2 linked regions of the Homo sapiens genome follow. The protein of the gene in region 1 purifies or fractionates together with the protein of each later gene. This does not show direct contact. Each region holds a gene or a part of one and is shown in the gene's direction. Other genes may lie near its edges.

Evidence for each region. The genes of interacting proteins can lie anywhere in the genome.
Region 2: the proteins of FAM120A (region 1) and YTHDC1 purify together in Homo sapiens (co-immunoprecipitation; 2 studies listed by BioGRID and IntAct, with this or other methods). This does not show direct contact.

Annotation. Positions count from the first base shown.
Region 1 is NC_000009.12:93,552,684-93,559,721, forward strand, and holds part of FAM120A (constitutive coactivator of PPAR-gamma-like protein 1), read left to right. Parts: exon of another isoform or gene 1-3,675; intron 3,676-3,698; coding exon 3,699-3,908; intron 3,909-5,143; coding exon 5,144-5,327; intron 5,328-5,897; coding exon 5,898-6,035; intron 6,036-7,038. UniProt on the Homo sapiens protein: Component of the oxidative stress-induced survival signaling. May regulate the activation of SRC family protein kinases. May act as a scaffolding protein enabling SRC family protein kinases to phosphorylate and activate PI3-kinase.
Region 2 is NC_000004.12:68,333,062-68,340,099, reverse strand, and holds part of YTHDC1 (YTH domain-containing protein 1), read left to right. Parts: intron 1-1,715; coding exon 1,716-1,817; intron 1,818-2,199; coding exon 2,200-2,528; intron 2,529-2,649; coding exon 2,650-3,073; intron 3,074-6,702; coding exon 6,703-6,792; intron 6,793-7,038. UniProt on the Homo sapiens protein: Regulator of alternative splicing that specifically recognizes and binds N6-methyladenosine (m6A)-containing RNAs.

The DNA of each region.
Region 1 (7,038 bases):
AAATTCAGTGATAGAAAATTAAATTCTAAAATTGCCTTTTCATTTAACCATTAAAATTTTTTGCAATATCAAAAGCAACAACAGTGCTTTGTTGTAATACACCATTCATAGTTTGTGATATAGTCAACTCTTGACTGTTAACTGGTGTGTCTGGGCCTGCTACCCAGTTTGTGGATTGCCCAGACCCTGTTTCTCTTCTCCCATTTATCGTCCACTCTGTGGTTGGCCATCAGAGGAGGAAAAGAGGAAGGAAAAACCCAGTGGTGACAGTTAGGACTCTTGTTAGCTTTTTCTGATGGGAGGTTTGGTGGGACAAGACATTGAAACCATTAGTTACAATGAATTTTTAAGAATTTCATCTCATCCATGCTTTCTTCGTCTGCCATGTCCATGAATAATTGAGAGTGTTCCATGTGGCTCCTTAAATACCTGTGACAGTGATTGATGACCCTCATTTTTCCTGTTATATTTTTTAAGCCCTTCTCCTAGGTTACCAGCATGAATGTAATTAAGGTAAAATTAGCACTGACCCCTGTGTTTTGAGGAGGGTGGGTAAAGGATGAGAAGGAACTTTGTACCATTATAGTATTTGTCCAGTTTCTTTCTCCCTTGCCTTGACATTCCTATAATTGCCTTAAATTCTTTTAACAGTTTCACATGCCAAGTGCAGAATATAAAAGATGGAAAATGAAGAGCTTTAAAGACAGTATTAGGGGCATGCAACATGTCTGTGATACGTGTAAGAATTATTTTGCATATAGGTAAATATGACAAATTGAAGTAAGAGTCTGTTGCCCAGTAATCAGATGTTGGACAAAGTAACTTTACTGGAATTTGGTTCTTGAGCTAATCGGTCAGAGAGATTAACTTCCATATTTGTATTTCTTATAAAGTCAGAATTTTTTGTCTGTATTTCTCTAGTTGAGGAACTTTGGATGATATTGAATATTTTATCTCAATTGATATAAGAGAATGAAGTTAGAATGTGAATATTGCAGCTATTTTATAATCAAGGGTTCAGATTTGGGTTCTCCCAATTACCAGCTCTGTGACCTTGAACCCTCTGTGACCCGTCTGTACAAGGGAGTACTATTTAGAGGTGCCTGCATTCTATGTTGTTTAGAGATGGCAGTGAGATAATGAAAAAAGCAGTGCTTGATATATATTTCTTAAGTTCCCCATAAATATTAAATGTTATTATTTATATATAACATTTAGGGAAAGAAAAACACCACATAATGTAAGTTTAAAAAATTTTCAAAGGAAGCAAATTTACACTGCAGTCAAGATTTTATTCAGATTGTTTATGCAAGCTCTTATTCTAAGAACTTTTCTCTATTAGATTAATGCTAATTGAACCATTAATTATCTTGAAACTATAAATAACATTTAAAAAATTCTTAAAAGTATAATCCTTTAATGTTAAGGCCATTTGATACACACACACACACACACACACACACACACACACACACACACACACACACACACACACACTAGCCTTGCTGCATTCTTCCTGTCAGCAAATTTGGAGATTAATAGTTTTAACTAGGGCGCTTGTGTGCCGTATACATCTGCTGCTGTTTCTTCAGTTTGGCAATGCAGATAGCCGTTTGCCGGGTAAATGGTTTTGGTTACATTAGTCTTAAAGGTTTGAATCTGGATGTGATTGGCACCAGCCCGTTCCTAAGAAACACCTGCAGGGGCTGGATGCGGTGGCTCATGCCTGTAATCGCAGCACTTTGGGAGGCCGAGGATCTTCTCAGATCACATGAGGCCACGAGTTTGAGACCAGCCTGGCCAACATGGTGAAAACCTGACTCTACTAAAAGTACAAAAATCAGCCAGGCATGGTGGCGCACGTCTGTAATCCCAGCTACTAAGGAGTCTGAGGCAGGAGAATTGCTTGAACCTGGGAGGCAGAGGTTGCAGTGAGCCAAGATTGCACCATTGCACTCCAGCGTGGATGACAGAGCGAGACTCTGTTTCAAAGAAAAAAAAAAGAAACACCATTAGGATGGTGCTGCATGTGCTTACACAAAGGGTGTTGGTGGCATTTTGTGTTTTAACATTTGGATAGCCAGGCAAACAACTTTAGAGCAGCATTTTCTCTCCCTAATCCTTGACCTGGATTCTCTGTTCTCTGGTGTAGGGCAGAGAGAGGGGCACGGAGGCCCCTGGGCTAGAAGCAGCGGAGCCCCACCTGACTGGAAGGGATTTGTGGTCATAATTTCTGCAGTGCAAGGGGCCAGGAGATGGGTGTCCTATTCATTCATGGGCCACACCTGTGCTTGGCTGCTTTCCAACAGGGTTGGCTCCCTCTTTCTGCCTTGAGAATTCTCCCTTTCTGCAGCTCAGAGGTGGGGGTGGCTGGGGTCTAAATGAATCAAGTACATTTTCTCCATTTTGTTCTAGTATGACCTCTCTTCCTCCACTTTGCACATAAATATAAAAATGCATCTAATTCTATCACCCCAGCCCTACCTGCCCCCAAGGGAACATTTTTTAGTTCACTTCCCAACAACTGCATGGGAAAAGGAGGAGCTGGTGATGTACAATAGGATCCAGAGGTATAAACACCTTTTATAAATTGGTGAACAGACTTCTCCAGGTTTTGGAAGGTCAACTGTATTGTGAAAATTTAAAAAAAGGTTGGGAAACAGTGTTAGTTGATAATAGGAACTGTTAACACAAACAACAAAAACAGCAGATGATTGTAAGTTTATTAGCATTTGGCACCAGAATGACCTTTTTCTCTTTAATGAAAAGCCCCTTTACCTGCCACATGTAGGCATTGCTTAGATTGATCTCCCATAAACATTGCATTCTTGAAAAGCCACCAAAGTCGGAAGACAAAAGCCAGAGCAGGGCTAAACTTTGATCCTGGATAATCCACAAACTAGGCCTTTCACATGCAGATGATCAAGAGTTGACTGTACTCGTGTTAATGTTTCTCACTCTGCTTATCAGACACTAGAAGCGTGGGCTCTACGTATAGAAGGTAGGCACCCAGCACTTAACACTGAGGGAAGTAAAAGTCTGCACAAATTCTAGTAGTATGTATGGTTCAAGAACCATATTTTTGTTGTCTTCTTTCATTTATAAGCTATCCATTTCTCCAAAAGACATTTTGACAGTCTTATTAATAAGTTGCAATTAAAAACCTTGACATATAAAATAATGTGAACATAAAGTATAAATTTATTTTAGAATGTAATTATACCAAATAATCTTTTAATGTAACTATTTAAAAATGCAGAATCTTAATAGAGTGTTCAGTTTTGACACTCTTTCTGTTAATACGTTACCTGTGTGCAGATCTGAAATGTGAAGTGTTATTTTACGAAGAGATTGTGGAGCCCTGGGCTCTAAGGAGACCACACATCATTGCTCATTTTGTCACACGTCAGCCTTAAGTACAGTGTTACTCTACACTGCGGAACGCTTTATAAACCCAACCTGAAATACTTGAGTATGTTTATAAAATATTCTCTTAAATTCAAATGTGTTAAATCACATAAGTATTTCTGTTCAAATGAGGCCAGTGTTAGGTCAATATAAGGTAATGGTAGGACTACTTAGTGGTGCTGTTTTGTTGAGGAATATTCTGTTAACTTTGGAGAGTTTTACTAAGACTTTGAAAGAATTTAATACTGTAGTACTCTTATTCCATAGAAATTACTCTTTTCAATTTAAAGATTGAGAACCTAGATCCCCGAGGAATTCAGCTATCAGCTCTCTTCATGAGTGGAGTAGACATGGCCTTGTTTGCAAATGATGCATGCGGACAGCCAATCCCCTGGGAACACTGTTGTCCTTGGATGTATTTTGATGGGAAGCTCTTCCAATCCAAACTCCTCAAAGCCAGCCGGGAAAAGACCCCACTCATTGACCTCTGTGATGGTCAGGTATGCTGCGGGGCCGGGTGGCTGCCTTTAACTGCAATGAAATAAAGCTCACTGGTTAAATCTGTCATCTTTTATACCATATTTATCATCCTGTGTTTCAAGATTCTGTTTTAGGTTGGGCCTGGTACTGAGTGTCACTAAATATCACTTCAGTACCCAGGATGAGCCAAGCTCCTGATATAACATTGTTTCTCATTATTTGTGGTAGTAATGTTCTAAAATTCACCTTGAACGCCAAATTAGTGAATACTGACCATTGCTCCTAGGGGCAATACAAGGTGCTGGGTTCCTTCAAGGCTCTGGTCACATATTTTTGTTAACCAATCAGTATATAATCTTATTTCATGTGCATTTTCGTTAAAGACACCTTATATAATATGGATTGTTGATTCATTATTATTGAACTCACAGCCAGTAGCTTCTGTAACACGTATATTCTCTGTAAGGCACATCACAGCCTCCTTATGCATTTAGGAACACCAGACAGCACTTCAGCACTACACTTGGAGACCATTTTATTTGTTTGTTTGTTTTGGTTTTTTTTTTTTTTTTTTTGAGATGGAGTTTCGCTCTTGTCGCCCAGGCTGGAGTGCAGTGGTGCGGTCTCAGCTCACTGTAACCTCCACCTCCCAGGTTCAAGTGATTCTCCTGCTTTAGCCTCCCTAGTAGCTGGAATTACAGGTGCCTGCCACCATGCCCAGCTAATTTTTGTATTTTTAGTAGAGACGGTGTTTTGCTATGTTGGTCAGGCTGGTCTTGAACTCCTGACCTCAAGCAATCCACCCACCTTGGCCTCCCAAAGTGCTGGGATTACAGGCGTGAGCTGTTGCACCCAGCCAGGGACCATTTTAAACAGTGAAATTACCAACAAAAAAGGACAAAAATGTGAAACACGTGGCACTTAATAAACTGTGAAAAGGATTCTTGTTTTCAGTATGAGCTGAAACAAGAAGGCAAGCGTTGTCTTGTTTGACCTCAGCTGGGGTCAGTGCATCAGGCAACAAAAATCTTTGCCGTGTTCTGCACAAGTCTGCAGACGACCAGAAAACTGCCATAAGTATTGATTTTTGTGGTTACAAATAAACGTTAGCAAGTAGGAGAATTTGCAGACATAGAATTCATGAATAAAGGGAACCAACTGTATAGTTGATAGATCTTATTTCTTTAGTGCTCATTTAAATTCAATTAAAACCCCCTGTGGATGGCATTTTCACATGCTGGTCCTTGTCTTCCAGGCTGATCAGGCTGCCAAGGTAGAGAAGATGCGCCAGAGCGTCCTCGAGGGGCTCAGCTTCTCCAGGCAGAGCCACACGCTCCCTTTCCCGCCGCCACCTGCCCTGCCCTTCTACCCTGCCTCTGCGTACCCCCGGCACTTTGGGCCTGTCCCACCCTCTCAGGGCAGGGGCAGAGGCTTTGCAGGTGAGTTGATTGGGACGTATTCCTGTGGGTAACAGATGCCAGATTCCTGTAAAGAAAGTGCAGCCCTTATAGGCAAGCCCATCTGCTGTGTTGACCTTGTCACTGTTGGTCTTGGAGATCCTGCAGCAGCAGTTCTTCAAGTCCGTGAGGAGCAAGTTTAATCCTGGAGATAGGGGAGAGGGACCTGCTGATGCAGATGCAAAAGCTGCACCGTAAAATCTGTCAATCAAGCTGAAAACTCTGCTCACATTTTAAGATATATTTGTTTCTCATGTGTAAGGGAAAATAAACCCACCCAGGTCAGAGAGAGCCATCTTCCAGGACTCATCTCCCAGGGCCCTTCCTGAGCCCCATGCTAGTGCCCTGTTGAATGACCCACTGCAGGGAGGGTGGCCTTACAATACTGGTCCCCAGGGACCATGGGCACAGGACAGTGAGGTGACAAGAGGGGCCAGGAGACCCCTCCATGGCAGCTGGAGGAGGCAGGGGCCACTCTGCCTGAATACCCAGCAGGGCCCTGAGTCCTGTCCCTTACACTTCTCCCCTCTCTCTCTACCCCGGGTCCCACAGGCGTCTGTGGCTTTGGAGGCCCCTATGGGGAAACGGTAGCAACAGGCCCTTACCGTGCCTTCCGTGTGGCGGCAGCATCGGGACACTGCGGAGCCTTCTCAGGCAGTGACAGCAGCAGGACTAGCAAGTCCCAGGGCGGTAATTATACCCACCCCTTCCCAGAGCTTCTGCCTGCCAGCACTTCCTTCGCTCCATCGTCTGGCGCCTTCCTTCCTCTACTGTCCTCATGAGCCCCTCCTCCAGCAGAACGGCCTTTCTTCTGGGTCCCCGCTCTGACCCTCATTGACCACTCCTCCTGAGACTCTCTGCTCTCAGGTCTCAGCAGCGGCTCTGCTGTGGCCAGTCTCTCCTTTCAGGGTAGACCACTGAGTGTCCACCTAGAACAGAACCTTTCTGTGCACCTGGGTAACCTGACCATCGCCTCGTGTTCATAGGATGAGCTGCTAATAGTGGCGTTTCTTTCCCAAGCAGCCATCTTTTGGTAAAGATTATCATGCTTGTATAGAAAATGCTAATGGTCACAGAATTCCTGACATAAAAAGTCTGTCACAGTTTGTTTCGCAGAAACATTTTTAAACAAAGATCTAATGTTGGGCATATAAACAAGGCAGTTTACTGTAGATTCCCAGTGCTTCTCTTTGCATTTGTATTAGGCTTGCAAAAGAGAAAAGGGTCTTAACATTTAGCATAGGAAGCAATGTCTTGTGATGGTGCTGTAATTGGAAGTCAGTGACCTGTATCTTTGTCCTAATCCCACATTTTGGGACTGCAGATCTAAATCTGCCCATCAAGTCACATAACAGGATTAACTGTTCAGATGTGATTTTGGAGTTGCATTGAGGATGGGCAAGCCTTTCTCTCTTGATCAACAATGTTTTTCCAACTCAGTTACATGGGATAGTTAGGGAGGCCAGCAAGGGAACTGTGCGGAAAGGTGACTTGCAGATTTGGCGACGGGTCAGCCCCTCTGTCTGCAGGTCACCTCTCCTTTCCCTGGTGCAGCTGCATGCCTCTCTGCCTCCTCTGTCTGCCCACCAGCCTCCTGCAGTGTGCTACTCTGCTCTGTGACTGCTCCTCATGCAGCTCGCAGCCATGTTTCCTCTCTGCTTCTTGATTTGCTTCAGCTCCTTCTAGTGCCTTG
Region 2 (7,038 bases), on another chromosome or scaffold:
TTTTTCCTGAAGCCACAAATGTAATTGTTCTGTCTCATCAGTTTTCATGGCTTTATACTTCCTCTTTGGCACACCTTAAATTTGGAAAGATGTTTTTGATATTGGAATAGTTAATGTTTAAACATTTACTATTAGCATTAGTACATTTTAAAATTTAAAATGGTATTTGTGTGTATTTCTAAGGTTTATCTTGTTGGACAAGGTAGAAGTGGGGACAAAACTGAGTTTTATGCTTTCATGATCATTGAATAAAGTCATAGTTCCCTTCTCTGAACAAGTTTTGTGCTTTTACAGTCCACACCAGCAGGCTCTAAATGTTTTTTTTATTATATAGCACATTGATAATTTTTTCATTTAACTTGCAGTTTGACATAATTTCAGATAAGCATAATAGCTACAAGTGCAGTGTGAAGAATTTTCTTTTACTCTCCAAACACATTCTGCAGATGTTAGCATTTTGTCACATTTGTCTCATTCTGTGTGTCTGTGTGTGTACGTGCATGTGTGCACACTTTTTTCCTGAACCATTTGTAAGTTGTAGACATAATATATCTTTGTCCCTAAATACTTAAATATGTGTTATAAGGACTTTGACTTAACCATAGTACAGTCAAAATTAGAAAAATAACATTGCTACTTACTCTGATTTACAAACTTTATTCAGATTTCACCAGTTTTTCCAATTATGTCCAATATTGTGGGCTGTGTTCAGTTATCATGCCTCTCTAGGTCTGCTTTGATATGAAATAGTTCTTACTCTTTGTTTCATGACAGTGACATATTTGGATGCCCTTTAATTTGGGTTTGTCTGATTTTTTTCCTCATGTAGGTTCAGCTTTTCCATTTTGCATAGAACATTACAAAAGCATTGTTCTATTCTCAGAGCATTGTTACAGGAGGTCCATGATGTTGATTTGTCTCATTACTGGTGATGTTAACTTTGATTATCTGGTTAATTTGGCCTGTGAAACATTTCTCCACTGTAAAGTCGTTTTCCCTTTGTAATTGTGGAGAGTGCACATTTTTGGTAAATGTGTATTTATAAGTTGTACATACGTATTTGTATACTAATTTATTGTACACATTTTAAAGCCCTCAGAAATATTAGAAATTAAAGAATGAGGTAAAAATAGAGACATTCTTGCATTTTCTTTTTATGCCTCAGTATATCTTTTCATGCCTTCTGAGATGTATACTCCTGGCTTTGTAGACCAGATAGCCCAGACTTCTGTTTGTGTGTGTGTGTGTATTTTGAGAAACTCACTCTTATCGCCCAGGCTGGAATGCAGTGGCACAATCTTGGCTTACTGCAACCTCTGCTTCCCAGGTTCAAGTGATTCTTGTCCCTGAGCCTTCTGAGTAGCTGGGGTTAAAGGCATGTGCCACCATGCCCTGCTAATTTTTGTATTTTTAGCAGAGCAGGGTTTTGCCATGTTGGCCAGGCTGGTCTCAAACTCCTGGCGTCACGTGATTGGCCTGCCTCAGCCTCCCAAAGTGCTGGGATTGCAGGCATGAGCCACCACGACTGGCCAATTCTTTACCCTGTATTAGTTTTATAGAAATTAATCTTGTGTCTTGATTCTGAAATAAAAGTAAAGCTTTTTATATAAAAGTAAAAGCTCCTAGGCGCTTGTGGCCTCACACTTAGTAAGTACTCAAAAATACATGTTCAATGATAGTGATTTTTCCCTATTAATTTTTAATTTTATTTGCAGATGGAGAACTTAATGTTCTGGATGATATTTTAACTGAAGTACCAGAACAAGATGATGAACTGTATAATCCAGAGAGTGAACAAGATAAAAATGAGAAAAAGGGTATGTAAGAGTTCTATTATTTTTGTTGAAATAACAGTATAAATAGAGGAGATTCAATTTCTTAAAAAAAATGACTGTGCTTTTTTGTGCTTGTTCCTTGAGGCAGTTAACACTAAATGTACATAATAAACTGGTATCCATATGAATAGGGATAATCTGTTTTTTTCTAATATATGAAACTTCTCAAATATATGGTTTTATTCCCATAGTTGAAAGCTATGTTTTCTTTTAGATTAACTCTGGAGAAGAAATCTCTCAGAAGACTTTTAAAGAAATGAGGCCTATCCCCCCTTCCTGATGTATATATTATTGTCAGTCTTTGGTGAAATAAATGGAATACTACAAATACTTCTTTTTTTTTTTTTTACATTGTATTTTAAAGGATCAAAAAGAAAAAGTGATCGAATGGAATCTACTGATACCAAACGACAAAAGCCTTCTGTCCATTCTAGACAACTGGTTTCTAAGCCACTGAGCTCATCTGTTAGCAATAACAAAAGAATAGTTAGTACAAAAGGAAAGTCAGCCACAGAGTATAAAAATGAGGAATATCAAAGATCTGAAAGAAACAAGCGTCTAGATGCTGATCGGAAAATTCGTCTATCAAGTAGTGCCTCCAGAGAACCTTATAAGAATCAACCTGAAAAAACCTGTGTCCGGAAAAGGGATCCTGAAAGGAGGGCCAAATCTCCTACGCCAGATGGTTCTGAGGTAGTAAATATTATTGCAGATATAAAACAGAAAGCCATTCTTTTTGAGGCTTTAGAACTGTTTATTCACCCTGACCTTGTCTTTTATATGACTGCTGATTCCCTTTTTCTTTAAACATCAGAGAATTGGGCTTGAAGTGGATAGACGTGCAAGCAGATCCAGCCAGTCTTCTAAGGAAGAAGTGAACTCTGAAGAATATGGCTCTGACCATGAGACTGGCAGCAGTGGTTCTTCTGATGAGCAAGGGAACAACACTGAGAATGAGGAGGAAGGAGTGGAAGAAGATGTGGAGGAAGATGAAGAAGTAGAAGAAGATGCAGAAGAAGATGAAGAGGTGGATGAAGATGGAGAGGAGGAGGAGGAAGAGGAGGAGGAGGAAGAGGAGGAGGAGGAGGAGGAAGAAGAAGAATATGAACAGGATGAGAGAGACCAGAAAGAGGAGGGAAATGATTATGACACTCGAAGTGAGGCCAGTGACTCTGGTTCTGAATCTGTTTCCTTCACAGATGGGTCTGTCAGATCTGGTTCAGGCACAGATGGATCAGGTACTACTTTTTATATGTAAAAGTTTGTCTTAAAAAAAGCTTGATAGGTTTCAGTCTTGAAAATGTTTAAATTATAAAATTGTTGAGGAGATGGGGGATATTAATAGGATTGTCTTGTGATCCTTTATATGCTTTTGAATGTTATAAATACATTTGAATAATCTTGGATAAGATTTACATATTTTAGGAAAGGCATTTCCTAGCTACAGAATGGTTGTGTTGTAAATGAACACAAGTCCATTTGATTCTGTATAAGGAAATGTATTTCAGATTTCTGTAAATTCTTAGATTTTCATACCAGTCAGCAGTTTATTTAAACACTGATGTACTTGAAGTATATTCATAGGAAACCTGTCCACTGGGTATTACAGTATTTCCTTGGTAAAATACCCCTAGATTTCCATCATATGGCTTCAGAATCAAAACAGATTATTTCTTTTTTATCTCTGGGAGCACAGACTTTTCTTCTAATTTTGTGTCTGTCAGTTGACTGGCTGAGACAGGGTCGACAAGAGGGCTGGGGTGTAAGGTATAAGATGGAGATGAAGACTATAAATAAAATTCTTGTGGAAAAATCAGGTAAGAACCATCTTCAGTCATTTCTTCAATGCTATATATATCCTGCCTCTCTATACCTATGAGACAAAAATGTATGACTGTTACGTAGTTGGAGGCACTAGGCTTAGGGGAACTTTTCTTGGGGGAGGGTACAGCAAGGAGAGGTCAGGGTACTTACAGAGCACTATATGATGATTATAATCTCATGACTGTCTTATGTAAAGATGCTACCAGATTGCTACATAAGCAAAATGTACTAAACATAAGAAAATTCCTATTTTTTTGAAATACATTTACAGTTTATTATAGAATTTGATCATTTATAATAGTACATTGTTTTATATATATAGTATATATAGTATAGAAAAGTACTTCAGTTGCCAATCACTAGAAGATAACTGGCCATCTGCTCTACCTATACTATATACAGATAGTATATATCTATACTATATATTTTATACTATATATTTATACTATATGGATAGTATATATCTATACTACATACAGTATAGGTAGAGCAGATGGCCAGTTATTTTCTAGTGATTGGCAACTGAAGTGCTTTCAACCTTTTGTTCACTAGAATTCTAGGTTTGGGAGTTAAGATAGGCTTTTCAAGGGAGGTAGAGTTAAACAGAATAGATGAGTAGTTGGATTTGTTGTAAAAACATATGAAATCTTTATGCTTCCATCATGCCTTTTACAAACTGATAGGATATATTTTTTATAATTTAAGATAATAAATATTTCATTAGCAGTATGTGTTGAATGTTCATTTATTGTGGAGAATGTATGAAACCACTCCCTTGGGTAGGGAACGTTTTGTTGTAGGAATCTTCTTTTTGGTATCTCTGTTATTTCTTAGACTTTAATGTTTGTATTGTTTACATTAAACAAAGGGAACTTACTTAAATGGGTAGGACCAGAAATTGCATTTGTAACAGGCTCCTAGATGATACCATAGTAAGGTAACTTGATTGACACACTTTGTTTTTGTGGAGAAGACATTTCAAATTAAATGGTAACTGTAGTTTTATAATAAATCTTGATATCAAAACTCTGTTACTAGACTAGGTTTATTCTAAAAGAGATACCTGAAAGTTTTATTTTCCTTATAAAGGAAAATCCCTTATGTGGAACATGCTTTAGGTACTATATTAATATGCAGGAAATTTTTTTTTATACAATAGTTTATGAAAGAGTAATGGGGTGATTTTGGAACTTCTTGATTAAGAGACGTCAGTTTTTAAATAAAAGTGATCACAGTTGAGTTTCTCTGTCATGAATTTTCTAGATTCCAGTTCATTTTACCTTATTCTCAGAATTTTTGGTAACTTTATAAAAGCAACAGACTGATTGATAACAGTTTATTTATTAGATGATTTTCATTGTTCTTTTGACCTGAGAGTAATAGTTGGGGGAGAGGGCCATAAACTTAAGAGCATTGGGAGTTATTCATACAAAAATGATGAAAATTCCTTGGAGATTTCTCATGCTAATGCTAGGTTTAGCATTATATAAAAACAATTGAGTAGGATCTTCTGCTTCTGTTATTTTCCCTGCATTATCTCAGATCTTTTTAGTAACTTTTTAATTATTGTTTTTGTCTTTATATAAAGAGGGTCTTGCTATGTTGCCCAGGCTGGTCTCGAACTCCTGAGGTCAAGTGATCCGCCTGCCTCGACCTCCCAAAGTGCTGGGATTACAGGCACGAGCAACTGCACCAGGCCCTTTTTAGTACTTTGGACCATGAAATAATTCTTTTTTAACAGCAACAAGAGATAAATTACACTCAGTCAGATGCATTCATAATGCTTAGACTACTGAAAGAAATATCCATGGGGGAAAAATTAGAAGAAACATGTCAGAACTTTTGAAAGAAATAATGAAAAAAGCCCCCAAAACTAGTTAAACCTGTAATCACCTTTCAAAAATAGTATAAAACATCCTTTCTACTTGCTCAAGCCAGAGGACCTGCCCTTGAGTCTAGGTTCTGCCATCCAGGAACTGTGGGACCCTAGTCTAGTTGCCTAACTGCCTGTCTAATTCAAGGTTTCTTCATCTGTAATGAGAATATCTTGTGAACTTGTTATGAGAATTAAAGGAGATAAGTAGTTAAAGCTTTTTAAATAGCTGTCATTATATAGTAGGTTATTGTATACATGATCACTGATTATTATTTTTCAGCTTTCCATTGTTTATATAAAAATAAGTATATGCATTTTTTTCTTCCTATTCCCTTATCTCTAAGCTGAAAAGTAAAAGGAGCTTATCATGGTAAAACTAAGATAAAAATAAACAGATAGGAGAGCTGAATTCCATTTCAAGTCCTCATGTATATGCTTACAAAGTTCCAAATTAAGCTTGGGACTGGTTCTTACATGGCAGGTAATCCAAACCTTTTCTATTTACTGAAGATTTTCAGCTCTCTTACAGAAATACACAGGCTACCATTAAAATTGTAGGGATAAATTTTAAATTGAATTTGAAAATAAGAGCAGTAATCCAGGGAGGAAATGGCTAAGGAGAATGAAATAGAAGACACAAAAACAAGCAATGGCAACCAGAAGGGAATCACTAATTATGGTATATATATTTTTCCAGTTGTAAAGCTTTGGGTTCAGGGGTTCATCAGATCTCTTAAGATAGAATCAGAATTGTAATTGTGCTGAAGAATGGTAGTGGAGTTTAAAAAAATAAGGACTTAAGACAGTGTTACCTGGTGTGTAGAAAGGACACAGTTTTGAAAGAAATTGTTTTTGCTTTGCAAATTTCCCCCCCCGCTTGGAAAACTGTATTCAAGGCCACCTATATATGGCAATTAAGGCCCTGACTTTGTAGTTATTTCGTGTGTTTTTATTTGATTGAAACTGATGAAAGAAACAAGATGCCCGTACTTTTTAAACAGTATTTTTAAAATAAAACATTCTGAGGAAATTGAGGGATCAGGAGAGAGGAGCACAGACTAATAGAAGGGCTATGCAAAAACTAGACATGTAATGATACATTCTTGTTTGATTACTTCTCTTCGTTTCTGTATTGTGATTTAAAAAAAAAACTCTTGTTCTTTTTAGATGAGAAAAAGAAGGAAAGGAAGAGAGCTAGAGGCATATCTCCAATTGTTTTTGATAGAAGTGGAAGCTCTGCATCAGAGTCATATGCAGGTATTCTCATTTTGTGATCATATCTGACTTGATTCTAATGTAATCTGCTTTAGAAAGCGTGTGGAGGCTGTAGTTTAGTGTGAACTTGTTGATGTCCATTAGCACTGATTTTTGGCATGTTCAGTGTAATAATTCTAGAGAAAACTAAGCTTTTTCTTATTATTTTAATCCTGTTCTGTTACTGCTTAAGTGGAATTTTCACTTTTTTTTTCTTGGAAGATGATGATTCAGTGACTAGTTTTCTGA